4 linked regions of the Homo sapiens genome follow. The protein of the gene in region 1 purifies or fractionates together with the protein of each later gene. This does not show direct contact. Each region holds a gene or a part of one and is shown in the gene's direction. Other genes may lie near its edges. The genes, in order: PER3, AVL9, ANKRD36 and EMB.

Evidence for each region.
Region 2: the proteins of PER3 (region 1) and AVL9 purify together in Homo sapiens (affinity purification with mass spectrometry; one large-scale study listed by BioGRID and IntAct). This does not show direct contact.
Region 3: the proteins of PER3 (region 1) and ANKRD36 purify together in Homo sapiens (affinity purification with mass spectrometry, with the first as the bait; one large-scale study listed by BioGRID). This does not show direct contact.
Region 4: the proteins of PER3 (region 1) and EMB purify together in Homo sapiens (affinity purification with mass spectrometry; one large-scale study listed by BioGRID and IntAct). This does not show direct contact.

The regions. Positions count from the first base shown.
Region 1 is NC_000001.11:7,790,746-7,794,317, forward strand, and holds part of PER3 (period circadian protein homolog 3), read left to right. Parts: intron 1-3,211; coding exon 3,212-3,263; intron 3,264-3,572. UniProt on the Homo sapiens protein: Originally described as a core component of the circadian clock.
Region 2 is NC_000007.14:32,571,920-32,575,491, forward strand, and holds part of AVL9 (late secretory pathway protein AVL9 homolog), read left to right. Parts: intron 1-1,190; coding exon of another isoform or gene 1,191-1,279; coding exon 1,280-1,499; intron 1,500-3,572. UniProt on the Homo sapiens protein: Functions in cell migration.
Region 3 is NC_000002.12:97,259,616-97,263,187, forward strand, and holds part of ANKRD36 (ankyrin repeat domain-containing protein 36A), read left to right. Parts: intron 1-3,572.
Region 4 is NC_000005.10:50,399,783-50,403,354, reverse strand, and holds part of EMB (embigin precursor), read left to right. Parts: coding exon 1-177; intron 178-1,035; coding exon 1,036-1,069; intron 1,070-3,441; coding exon 3,442-3,496; intron 3,497-3,572. UniProt on the Homo sapiens protein: Plays a role in the outgrowth of motoneurons and in the formation of neuromuscular junctions.

The DNA.
Region 1 (3,572 bases):
TAGACGTACAAGCATTGGGTAAATACACCCATTTCAAATGGGAGAAATTGGCCAAAACAAAGGGGCTACAGGCCCCTTGCAAGTCTGAAATCCACTGAAGCAATAATTAAATATTAAAGCTCCAAAATAATCTCCTTTGACTCCATGTCTCACATCCAGGTCATGCTGGTGCAAGAGGTGGGCTCCTACAGCCTTGGGCAGCTCTGCCCTTGTGGCTTTGCAGGGTACAGCCTCCCTTATGGCTGGTTTCATGGGCTGGCATTGAGTGTCTGTGGCTTTTCTGGGCTCACAGTGCAAGCTTTTGGTGGATCTACCATTCTTAGGTCTGGAGGATGGTGGCCCTCTTCTCACAGCTCCACTAGGCAGTGCCCCAGTGAAGACTGTGTGGGCTCCGAACCCAAATTTCCCTTACACATCTCTCTTAGCAGAGGTTCTCTATGAGGGCTCCGCCCCTGTAGCAAACTTCTGCCTGGACATCCAGGCATTTCCGTACATCCTCTGAAATCTAGGCAGAGGTTTCCAAACCTCAGTTCTTGTCTTCTGCACACCTGCAGGACCAACACCATATGGAAGCTGCCAAGGAATAGGGCTTGCACCCTCTGAAGCTATGGCCTGAGCTGTACCTTGGTCCCTTTTAGCCATGGCTGGAGGTGAAGCAGCTGGAATGGAGGGCATCATGTCCCAAGGCTGCACAGAGCAGTGGGGGCCTGGACAGGCCCAGAAAACCATTTTTTCTCTCGTAGGCCTCAGCCTGTGATGGGAGGGGTTGCTGTGAAGTCTCTGACATGCCCTGAAGACATTTTCCCCATTGTCTTGGTGATTAACATTTGGCTTCTTGTTACTTCTGCAAATTTCTGTAGCAGGCTTGAATTTCTCCCCAGAAAATGGGTTTTTCTTTTCCATTGCATCTTCAGGCTACAAATTTTCCAAGTTGTTATGCTCTGCTTCCTCTTTAATGCTTTGCTGTTTAGAAATTTCTTCCGTCAGATACCTAAATCATCTCTCTCAAGTTCAAAGTTCCACAGATCTCTAGGCCAGGAGCAAAAGTTGCCAGTCTCTTTGCATAGCAGAAGTGTCCTTTACTCCAGTCCCAACAAGTTCCTCATCTCTCTCTGAGACCACCTCAGCCTGCACTTCATTGTCCATATCACTATCAGCATTTTGGTCAAAGCCATTCAACAAGTCTCTAGGAAGTTCCAGACTTTCCCACATTTTCTTGTCTTCTTCTAAGCCCTCCAAACTGTTCCAGTGTCTGCCTGTTACCCAGTTCCAAAGTCACTTCCACATTTTTGGGTATCTATGGCAGCACCCCACTCTTTGCAGTACAAGTTTACTGTATTAGTCCATTCTCATGCTGCTAATAAAGACATACCCAAGACTGGGTAATTTCTAAAGGAAAGAGTTTTAATTGACTCAGTTCAGCATGGCTGGGGAGGCCTCAGGAAACTTAACAATCATGGCAGACGGGGACATGTCCTTCACGTGGCAACAGCAAGGAGAAGCGCCAAGCAAAAGGGGGAAAAGCCTCTTATAAAACCATGAGCTCTCATGAGAACTCACTATCACGAGAACGGGATGACGGCAACCACCCCCATGATTCAGTTACCTCCCACCAGGTCCCTCCCTTGACATGTGGGGATTATGGGAACTACAATTCAAGATGAGATTTGGGTGGGGACACAGCCAAACCATATCACCTTTTATGTAAAATCTTAATATGCCCTGAAATAATTCTTTTGGATCTCAAAATTCACTTATGCCATAAGGCACGATATAATTCTAGTTTACTCTTTATATTGTACTTTTGCCTTATGAATCTCAAGGATTGATACTGAGAGCAGTTGGTTAATGCCACCCCCTTTATAGGCTATGCCTGCGTTACCCCCTTCGATTCCTTACTTTGAGCACATAGAACATCAAGAGGACTTAGGAAGCAATCCACTCAGCTGTTGTCAACCTCTGGTCCTGTATTAGAATATGTTTCTATTTAACATGTCTTGTACAAACCTCTTAGAAGGATCTGACCATTACTTCTTCAGAGTACGCTTTTAGAAACAAGCATCACATATTTACAGCCTAGGAATGGAAATGCATTGTGGGTGCACGTCTGCTGTCTTAGATCACGTAGTCTAGCTTTCAGTGGTCCAGGACTTCTAGTGAGTGCAGTTGGAGTTCATGTGTCTGGTGTGATGAATAAATGGTATAAGCAAACTGACCTCACAGTAGAGGCCGTTTTCTGTAGAAGATTATACCAATCTTCAGTGCTTTATTAATGCTTTCTGACTCTTCTGTGATCGTCTCTTAGAAGTATCAAGACCTGGGCTGCTTATTCAATATTTTGGTTGTTTTGGATTTTCACTGTTTATGCTACCTTCAGTGTATATTTTTTGAACATCTCACAGTTTTCCATGGTTCCTATAACTGAAGACTTCTTGTTTCAGTGAACAAATGCCCAAAAGATATTCAGGAAGCTCTAATCAGAGGAAATACATATAGTCAACAAACACTGGGCAGAAATTTCAGTCCCCTCATCTCCTAAGGCAAATTTAGACATTTCTGAATTATCACCTCATAAATCAATAAAATGGGTGCAGAAATCAATGGAATTGCTAGCAAATCATTGGCATGAGGGTTGTGAGAAAACATTAATAAAACTCTGAAGATTGGTACAGTTTTCTGGAGGTTTATCCATACACAATAAAGTCATAAAACGATTCTATCATTTAACCTAGGAACACAACTTTTTGAAATTTATCCAAAGAAAGAGCTTAAAGAAAAAAAGAAAATTATATATCGTATAGCTAAGAAGCTGAAAATAGTCTGAATTCCCAACTTTTTAGAAAGGTCCAGACTATTACAATGGGATGGAATATTACCACCAGAATAATTGTGTCCAAGGATCATTACATTGACCTTTGAGATGATGAACATGGGCAGTTTGGGAACTATGAAAAGTAGTAAGGGGAAGAGATAAAGCCGATTCTCACTGTTATACCTGAGGTTCACGGTTCCAGTACCAAAACCAATACTAGTATTTCCCAATTCTAGTATTGTGACTGGATCTCAAAATGAAGGAAGGGGGTTCTATTTTAATCAAGGAGACCTCTCTCTCTTTTAAAAAATAGTTTGTTGTTTGATAATGGTGCAACATTGTTTCACTGAGAAAGACCTGGATAAGAGGGAGTGACTGACCAGGCATCTTTCTTTCTAGCAGCTGCACGGTATGAATGTGCTCCGGTGAAACCTTTTTTCTGCAGGATCCGGTAAGTATAGTGGCTCGTGGAAGCCAGCAACAGTGGATTATGTTCTGAGTTTATTTTGCAGTTGGTTTGATTCTTGTGTATTCAGCTCACTTCTGTTGCGAGATACAAAAAATAAGACTTGGTTATTGCCACAAGGAGTTCGTATTTTGATTGAGAAGAGACATACTCATGAGAAAACTAGATAATAATGCAATAGGAGGCTGGGCACAGTGGCTCACACCTGTAATCCTAGCACTTTGAGAGGCAGAGGCGGAGGCGGGCGGATCACAAGGTCAAGGGGTCGAGAACATCCTGGCCAACATGGTGAAA
Region 2 (3,572 bases), on another chromosome or scaffold:
TTGGGAGGCCAAGGTGGGCGGGTCACAAGGTCAAGACATCGAGACCATCCTGGCTAACATGGTGAAATCCCATCTCTACTAAAAATACAAAAATTAGCTGGACATGGTGGCAGGTGCCTGTAATCCCAGCTACGCGGGAGGCTGAGGCAGGAGAATCGCTTGAACCCGGGTGGCAGAGGTTGCAGGGAGCCGAGATCGTGCCACTGCACTCCAGCTTGGGCGATAGAGTGAAATTCTGTCTCAAAAAAAAAAGAAAAAAAAAAAATTCAGCCACACTGAGGTTTTTGTAGTTTCTGACAGAAAGTATGAAAACATGTTTCTTGGGTGAATGGTTATAATATAATGAAAGTCCAGGATTCAAAGATGTATTTATTATAATCCCAAATTTGAAGAAGAAAAAGTATATACATTTTCCAAGACAGGAGGATACAGATGGGAGGACCATAAAGCTGCTTCATCATTATTGGTTACATTCTAGTTCTGTAGTTGGTTGGTGGGTTCGTAGGAATTTCTTTTATTATTATACTTCAAAACTAACCTGTAAGTTACATGTATTTTTTAGTATATCAAATATTACATAATAAGATATTCTAAAGTATCTGGCCGGGCATGGTGGCTCACGCCTGTAATCCCAGCACTTTGGGAGGCCGAGGTGGGCAGGTCACAAGGTCAAGACATCGAGACCATCCTGGCTAACATGGTGAAATCCCATCTCTACTAAAAATACAAAAAATTAGCCGGGCGTGGTGGTGGGCGCCTGTAGTCCCAGCTACTCAGGAGGCTGAGGCAGGAGAATGGCATGAACCCAGGAGGCAGAGCTTGCAGGGAGCCAAGATTGTGCCATGGCACTCCAGCCTGGGCGACAGAGCAAGACTCCGTCTCAAAAAAAAAAAAAAAAGAATATTCTAAAGTATCTGCACGCAAAAGAAAAAGTATTTAAGGAATTATACTTGTTAAATGTGTTCATTTCTGCTAGTGAAATAAAGGTGATTTTTACATGTATTTCTATATTTTCCCAAATATTTGCAATCTAGGTGAGTAATTTTGTAATTTAAAATACTATATTTATGTGTGTATTTTCTAAAAACAGAAAATGAGCATTTTATAAATAGAAAGAAAACTTCAGTGTACAAACCTCTTTCTTAGACTCACCTTTTGAGAATGCCATTATTCATATTTTTTATTTCCAGCTCCACCTTCCCCGTAGTTACTCTGTAAAGTGTGGCATGGATGTCTGCGTGAATGCCCAGACTCTGACTTGTACCTGGATACCCTCTAGGTAGAAGAAGCTCTGATCCAGATCCATGATCCAGAACTCAGGAAGCTGCTTAACCCAACCACTGCAGACCTAAGGTTCGCAGACTACCTAGTGAGGCACGTGACTGAGAATCGGGATGACGTCTTCCTAGATGGCACGGGCTGGGAGGGAGGTGACGAATGGATCCGGGCCCAGTTTGCGGTCTACATTCATGCCCTGCTGGCTGCCACACTGCAATTAGGTAAGAAACCACACGGAGCCTACAGCTACCTGTTTTATTATAATTTTTCATTTTGTAACATTTATGAGATTTTGGATTGCACAATAAATACATATTCCTTATAGAAAAATTACCAGTTATTCCCTCATACAAAGATAGCCACTTTTAACGTCTTTAGTACTTTATAGCCTTGCAAATCTTTTCCTATGCATGTATTTTGGATTTTGGTTTTATGGTACTTTTGGTGGTCCTTTTACAAAAATGGATCCCTTTATACATGTTTTCTGAAACTATTACTTTATAATAGAAACAACACATACCAACATAACATGAACATATATCATCACTTTTACATGACTGCTTCATATTCATCAGTATTTGGCAGCTGTTTGTGAATACTGCCACATGTTTTTTAAGATGTATAAAGGGAGAAAGAATATAAAAAATAGAAATCATTGAAAATCGTGTTGTAAATGATTAAATCTTCAAATTTATAACCCATTCTAAGAAATATTATTATTCGTATTAAATGGTTAAAATGGAGCAGGTAAACATGGAGTTACTCCTGCATTAAAACTATCTCATTCTCCTTGGGAAAGAAATATATAAATAGTGAAAATGGAGCTCTGCAGTGAGCTTTTCACCTTGGACATTTGGCAGATATTTATTAGAGTTGTTAAAAATGTGTTGAGCTTGTGTTTTTGTTTCAGTTAACTAACCATTATTTTTTTAATTGTGATGAAATACACATAGCATAAAATTTACCATCTTTACCATTTTTAAATGTACAGTTCCACAGTGGCATTAGATACATTCATTGTTGTATCAGTAGATTTTTTTAATCAACACCACCACCACATGCTCCCAGGTTAGTTGTTTACAGTGCACATAGGAGTTTTAAAGTAGGTTTCGGGAGAGTTTTTCATTTGTAAAAGACAGCTGAGGAACAAGCCCTCGTTTGTTAATGAGATATTTTTAAATGTTTGCCACCACTAACAATGTAGCAGCTGAGACACCAAAATTAAATCCTTTAACCCCAAATCATTTGGTAATCTAGAAAGAAAACTTCAGTCTCCACTGCCATGTAGCTTAATTAATTTGCTTTTAAGCAAATTAATTAATTTGCTTTTTTAAAAATATTTGCCCAGGAGGCTGTAAGCACTGAATAATAGTAGCTCACTTTTTTTTTTGAACATTAAATATATGCAGGGACCAGTGTTCTGAGCACTTTACATCTAGTAATTCATTTCATCCTTACAGCAATCCTGAAGGTAGGGACCTTGTCATTGCCTTTTACAGAAGAGAAAATGAAGCTCACAGAGGTTCATAAGAGGCTTAGGTGGGATCTGATCCCAAACAGTTTGGCTTAGGCCCATACTCTTACAAGTAACAAGGTCAAAAGAGGAAATTCAGCCCAATGAACTGCTTGAGGAAGTGTTCTTAGAACAACTTCTTTATGCTGTGTATGGAACTGTGTATCTCATTCATTTCCTTTCCTAGCAACAAAAGGTACTTTGTATTTCACCTTCAAAGTAAACAACATGCAATTAATATATGAAGTAATAGCCATTTGTATCAGTTCTCCAAACCATTTCTAATCTTCCAAGCGGAGGAAACACATATGGATGCTTTCCCATGGTATTGATAAAGCTGAAAACTTTATCAGTTTTCAGTATATTCTTTTAAGACTTTTTTTGTTTTGTTTTGTTTTGTTTTTTGAGACAGAGTCTCGCTCTTGTTGCCCAGTCTGGAGTGCTGTGGCATGATGTTGGCTCACTGCAACCTCCATCTCCTGGTTTCAAGTGATTCTCTTACCTCAGCCTCCCGAGTAGCTGGGACTACAGGTACCCGCCACCACGCCTGGCTAATTTTTGTATTTCTGGCAGAGACAGGGTTTTGCCATGTCGGCCAGGCTGGTCTCGAACTCCTGACCTCCAGTGATCCGCCCTCCTCGACCTCCCAAAGTGCTGGGATTACAGGCATGAGCCACTGCACCTGGCCTTTTTTAAGTGTTTTTGACAGTGAAATGCTAGGAAATTCAAGAATGAAACACCAAATAAAGTCCAAAGGAGAGAACATCATGACTGAAAGAAC
Region 3 (3,572 bases), on another chromosome or scaffold:
AACAACAGTAAAGTTTGCTGCATCACTTGACTCCTTTGATGAAAGGTTTATCTGTAGTGTGCCATGCTGTTGGATAGCATTTTACCTCACAGTAGAACACCTTTCAAAATGAGAGTCGATCCTATCTAATGCTGCCACCGCTTTATCAACTCAGTTTGTATAATAAGATAGGTGTTTTTTTGTCATTTCAACAGTGTTTACAGTATCTTCACGAGGAATAGATTCCATCTCAGATGGATGGGCTATAAGAAACAACTTTTAGTACATTCAAGTTTGATCATGAAACTGCAGAAATTCAGTCACAGGCTCAGGCTCCAGTTTTACTCTTAGTTCTCTCCCTAGTTCCATCACACTCACAGTTACTTCCTCCACTGAAGTCTTGAAACCCTGCAAGCTATCTATGAGGGCTGAAATCAATTTCTTCCAAACTTCATATTTTGACCTCCTCCAAGGAATCACAAATATCTTTAATTTCATCTAGAATAGTGATTGCTTTCTAAAAAAATCCAGATGATTTTTAATTTGCCTTGTGCAGATACACAGAAGAATCATTGTCTATGGCAGGTATAGGCTTACAAAATGTATTCTTAAATAATAAAATGTCCTTGATCCATGGGCTTCAGAATGAATGCTGTGTTAGCAGGCATGAAAACAACATTAATCTATTTGTACAACTCCATCAGAGCTCTTGGGTTATGAGTGCATTGTCAATGAGCAGTAATATTTTAAAAGATATATATATATATATATATATATATATATATACACACATATATACATACACACACATACACATATACACACACACAAACACACACACACACACACACGTTTTCTGGACAATAGGTCTCAACAGTGTGCTTAAGATATTTGGTAAACCATACTGTAAACGATGTGTTTTCATCCAGGCTTTGTTGTTTCATTTATAGAGTATAGGTAGCATAGGTTTAGAAGAACTTAAAAATGTAGCAGAATGGTAAATGAGTACTGCCTTTAATGTTTTAATGTAACCAGCTGCATTAGCCAGTACATAAAGAGTCAGCCTGTCCTCTGAAGATTAGAAGCCAGGCATTGACTTCTCCTCTATAGCTGTGAAAGTTTTAGGTATCCTCTTCTTCCAGTATAATGCTGTTTTGTCTACATTGAAAATCTGTTATTTAGCATAACTGCCCTCATCAATGATCTTAGCTAGATCTTCTGGATAACTTGCTGCAGCTTCTCTATCAGCACTGGCTGCTTTACCTTGCACTTTTATGTTATGAAGATTCTTTTCTTAAACCTCATGAACCAACCTCTGCTAGCTTTAAACTTGTCTTCTGCAGCCTCCTCACCTGTGTCAGACTTCATAGAATTAAAGAATGTTAGGGCTTAGCTCTGGATTCAGCTTTGGCTTAGCGAAATGTTGTGGCTCATTTGATTTTCTATCCAGACCACTAAAACTGTCTTCACATCAGCAATAATACCATTGTACTTATCATTTGTGCATTCACTGGAGTAGTCTGTTTAATTTCCTTTAAGAACTTTTTTTTTTTTGCATTCACAGCTTAGTTTACTGTTTGATGTAAGTTGCCTAGCTTTCAGCCTATCTGAGCTTTCAACATGCTTTTCTCACCCTATTAATCATTTCTAGCTTTGTATTTAAATACTGGCATCATGGGGGCTAATGTGGCTTACAAAGTACAATTCATCTGGCAGATGGAACCATAGTTTGACACTACCAGTCTTATGTCGGGTTCAACCCAGTAATAAATCCAAGCCTACCCATTCTTCCCGGAAGGAGCTTGATTATGCATTGAATCAAGCTCCCAGAAGGAGCTTGATTATGCATTGAAATTCCACAACCTCCGTGGTTAGTGCCCAAGGAACTGTTTTCTTAAGAACTCTGCTCTGTGAGTCGACAGGATTTTGTATTTTTGAATGTATTTAGACCATAGAAAACAAAGAAGTAAGCATACAATGGGCCCACATTCAGAAGCTATCTCCTCAGGATCAGAGGCTGCATCCAGAGTGTGCATAGGTGTTTGTCACAGATCCTCTACCAAGCTTAATGGAGAGAGAGTGGGAGATAAATGTCCATACTAATCTTCATCATGTAGCTAGAAAGAACTGAAACACTCCTCCAGCCTTCTAACTTTCTAGCTACATCTGGATTGTCTGGCTCCTACCTTAACCAATTTCTGGTTACTGACAAGGCGTGGCACATCCTAAGTTCCAGGGAGCCACCAAAAACAGTCAATACTAGAGCACACAAGGACTTGAGAGGTACCTGAAGATCTCTGGCTGGAAAGTTTGGTGAGATCCTTTTCCTACATGAGGCCAGTCTTATCAAATGCACGGGAACCAACAGAGAGAGTCGAGGAAAAATGAAGAAACAGGGAAATATATTCAAAGCAAGAAAACAAGATAAATCTCCAGCACCTGAGTGAAGTGCAGATATGTAATTTATCTGACAGAGATTTCCAAATAATGGTCATAACAATAATCACTGAGGTCAAGATAGCTTTGCAAGAACAAGTTGAGAACTTCAAGAAAAGGAAAAACGTTATACAATAATGTCAAACAAATCATAGATCTAAAGTGTACTGTAACTGAACTGAAAAAATTTAATAGAGGTGTCCATTAATAGAATCTATCAGTGAACTTTGAGACTGGTCACTGGAAATTATCTAACCTGAGGATCAGAAAAAAAGATAATGCAAACGGAGTGAAGACAACTTTAGAGAGTTATGGGACACCATCAAGCAGGACCACTCACACATTATTGGCATGCCTGAAGGAGAAGTGAGGAAGAAAGGAACGGAAAAGTGTTTAAAGGAATAATGACAGAGAATTTATCAAGCATGGGGAAGAAAACAGAAAGCCTGATCCAGAAAGCCCAAAGGAAACCAAATAAGGTGAATCCAGGGACTCACAACAAGATACACTATAATCAAATTGTCCAAAGTTAAAGACAAAAAGAGAGTGATATTGTTTGCAAATTTGTACCCTCCAAATATTGTGTCAAGATTTGATCCCCAATGTTGGAGGTGGGACCTAGTGGGAGGTGTTTGGGTCATGGTGGTTGATCTCTCCTGGATAGCTTCTTGCCCTTTTTTCACTAATGAGTGAGTTCTCACTGCATTACACGAAAGGTGGTTGTTTAAAACAGTGTGGCACCTCTCCCGTCTCTTCTACCTCTCTAGCCATGTGTGTCATACCCGTTGTCTCTTCACCTTTAGCCACAAGTAAAAGCCTTCTGGGTCCCTGACCAGAAGCTGTGCAGATGCCACTGCCATTCTTCTTCTACAGCCTGCAAAACTGTGAGCCAAACAAACCTCTGTTCCTTATAAATTACCTAGTCTCAGCTAATTTTTTATAGCAACACAAAAATTTGTGTTTTTCCGTGTTGCTCTTTTCTGTGTTATTCTGTGTTGCTAACACAGAAATTAGTACCAAGGAGTGGGGTTTTGCTATAAAAATACCTGATAATGCAGAATTTGCTTTGGAACTGGGTAATAGGCAAAGAAGTCAGGAAGATGAGGAAACTTGTGGAACTTAATTAGACCTTGGTTAAGTGGTTGACCAAAATGATA
Region 4 (3,572 bases), on another chromosome or scaffold:
CTTACTGGTGCCGTGCACTATTCCAATTAGGCGAGAGTGAAGAACACATTGAGCTTGTGGTGCTGAGCTATTTGGTGCCCCTCAAACCATTTCTTGTAATAGTGGCTGAGGTGATTCTTTTAGTGGCCACCATTCTGCTTTGTGAAAAGTACACACAAAAGAAAAAGAAGCACTCAGGTGGGATTTCTTTTTTTTGTTTTTTGTTTTTTTTAGAAAGTATTATCAGTTAATTATAAGTATCATTTACTTATGATATGGATTATGATTTGATACATTGCAATGACTTTAGGATTTTTGGGGAAAATCTTCATTTTCTTATTTGGAGCAGTATTTAGGTTTACAACAATGGTGACAGTGAGCTGGAAACATATACCCATGGTCTTCCTGTTTCAATTCCTGAAAAAACTTAGTATTAAAAATGCCTTTTTTCTTTCTCTTCCCCCACCACCCCCCTCTTTTTTTTTTTTTTTTTTTTTTTGGTGCTACTGGTACCTAAGTACCAATTAGGTGATATGTATTCTGGCACTGGAATATTAGAAAAATCTATGATAGCTTAATATAAAAAGTCTAAAAGAAACAATTTTTCTTTCACTTAGATTATCATTTAAAAAAATATTTTATTAACCATTCCAGAGTTCTCATTAAAGAGAGACCATCCTGTCATGTCCTATTTTTGCGGCCTGTGCCTGATGGGTTACAGGTTGATAAAGCAGTAATCCTCTAGAAAATTGACCTTACGTCCTGTATTCTTTCCTGATTTTATACTAAATTTTTAATGATTTAAATAATGACAAACTAAGCAGTCATGTTTTTGAAAATACCAGGCCACTAAACTATGTTTGATCAGAAATGCAGATAAGGTCTGTAGTGCAGATAAAGGAGGTGTAGGTGTTTAAGGTAGCATGTCTCTCCTTCATTCCAAACAGGAGAAACAGCATAGTACTTACTTACTTAGGAAGGAGGTTTAATTGAGCATATATGTTCCATAAAAGTGACAAACCAACTTCACAGTCAAATTCTTCTTTTGTTACACAGATGAGGGGAAAGAATTTGAGCAGATTGAACAGCTGTAAGTATTATTTTTTACAGATTAATTTTCACTTGGGTAAAATACAGGGAAACATAAAATTGAATGAAATGTTTGCAGTTAGGGGGAGAAAAGGCAGAGGAGTATTTTCTGTATATGTCCACGTGGTGGTGGAAAGTGGCTTTCCAAGTCTGCCTACCTGCGTGAGAATTCTTCTTCATCACTTACTACCTGCACTTCTCTGTACTTCAGCTTTCTTCTCTACAAAATGGATTTAATAATAGTACTCACCATATGAGGTTGTTGGATGGAATGAATATTATATATGTGTAAATGCATAGCATAGGTTATGGTGCACAGAAGGTGTGCAGTAACCATCAGGAAGTATTTAATATTATTATTTTTAAAGCAATAGTTCTCAAGCCTGGCAATTTTTGATCACTTAAGAGCCTCTTTAAAAAAATACAGTTGCTCAGACCTTGCTGAATCTCCTGGATCAGAACCTCTTGGGTTGGGGCTATGGCATCTGTTATTTCTTGAAAACATCTACAAATGGTTTTGATCCTCTGTCTGTTGAAAATCACTGGCCTAGAATTCTATTAGTTATTATTATTCAGAGAACACAAATTGTGCCACAGGTTCTCTTACACAGCCTTTGTTTAGAGTTAAGCATGAGGAGGTCTGGAAATAAAATCACCAGGGATGTAATTTAGTTTGGCAAAGATGGGAGTTCCGAATTCCTCGAAGCCAGAGAACTGAGTATGGAGGCCAGTGACAGAGGTGTCCAAGACTGGGATTAAAGCCTGAACAATAGAGCCAAGGGCTGGAGTCCAGGAAAACGAGGCTAGATTAAAGTTGCTGCAAGAAACCTGAGAAGTGGAAGGCCTGAGCAACTATAACTAACACAAAATGGCACTTAGAGTTTATCAGCCAACAGGAGCTCTATGGAGTGAGTGTTACAGGCATGGATAGCAGGAGTGGAGCAGACAGTTGTCATTTAGATGTTTGTAGACATTATTCAGATAATCATGTTGACTCCATTCACATAGGCTGCTAAAATAAACCAATATGATATGAGCTTCCAAGTTAAGGGCACAAAATAACTACATCAGAAATCCTATAACACCAGATAGAGAAAAGCAATGTTGTCTTAGAATCATAGACTCCCATAGTTGGAAGGGAATTGTATCTCTCCCAAGAGAATCCCTTCTCTTTCTGGAGAACATAGATATCTTATTTATGTTGATTTGAACTTTTAATCTTTCCTATTTCCACGTATTGGCGTTTTTCTTGTTCTTAGCATCATATAACAAACGTGACAGTCATTGACATATTTGAAAACAGAACCTTGCTCGGATTCCTCTATTCTCCGAGCTCTGCCTCCCACTGTCTCTAACCATTCTTCTGAGCTCACATTTGGAAGTTGCATTCTGATTTAAAACACACTCTGAAAGGATGGTACCAGAACAGTGTGGAATGGACCATCACTTCTGAACAATGTAAAATGGATTCAATATATAGTGTAAAAGATGAATTATTTTTCTGAAAATTGGATCAATGTACATCATTTTGCTCATCTTGTATAGCACCATAAGGATCACTGAAGGTGTTTAGTTTTTCTTCAGGTTATTTCACTATCTTTAGATTGTATACAAATATCAAGGGCACTTGAAATCATTCAGAACAATGAGCTTCTTGATGTCCCTCAAACCATTTCTTGCAATAGTTGCTGAGGTGTTTTCTTAGTGGCCATTATTCTGCTTTTGAAGAGTACACACAAAAGAAAAACAAGCACTCGTGGGATTTCTTTTTTTTTAGAAAATATTAATTATCAGTTAATTGTAAGTAACACTGTCTTATAATATGCATTATGATTTGATAATTGACGCCTGCCCCCAAGACCTTGAAGGGCAAGGTATTCATTATGCATACTGGTTATTTAGTTTCCGTCAATCTTTAGAATCTGAGGCCCACATTTGTAGTCCTGCTCTGATAAACTTTGGGTGGAAAAAGAACCATTTTTAACCTCTATTTCAGTGTAATAAGCATACAAATGTATAGCACCAATATCACACATGTTGGCTGACCTCCTAATTGGCTATTACCTTGCATGTTTCCAAAACCACACATAAGTTATGGTCTTTACGCCCAAGTCCTCACTCATGCTTGGGGAGAAGCAATTCTCCCTGTGCATAAAATCAACAAGCCTTTGTCACTATCATTTGTGGTAACAGCTCCTCTTCAAGCAATGCCATAAAATAAATTCAACATTGTAAGTAAAACATTTTTAGGAAGAAAGAATTCTGTCCGTATTGACATTTTACATTTTAACCTGATAGCCATATCAGTGATGTACTGACTTAATTTTATATAATATAAGCATTTAGTAATTTTCTTTTTTGTTTTCTGTGCAGGAAATCAGATGATAGCAATGGTATAGAAAATAATGTCCCCAGGCATAGAAAAAATGTAAGTTACTTCTGAATGATATTCCAAATAAAAGGTCAAATTCAATATACATAGGCTATCTATCAATCAGTTACTT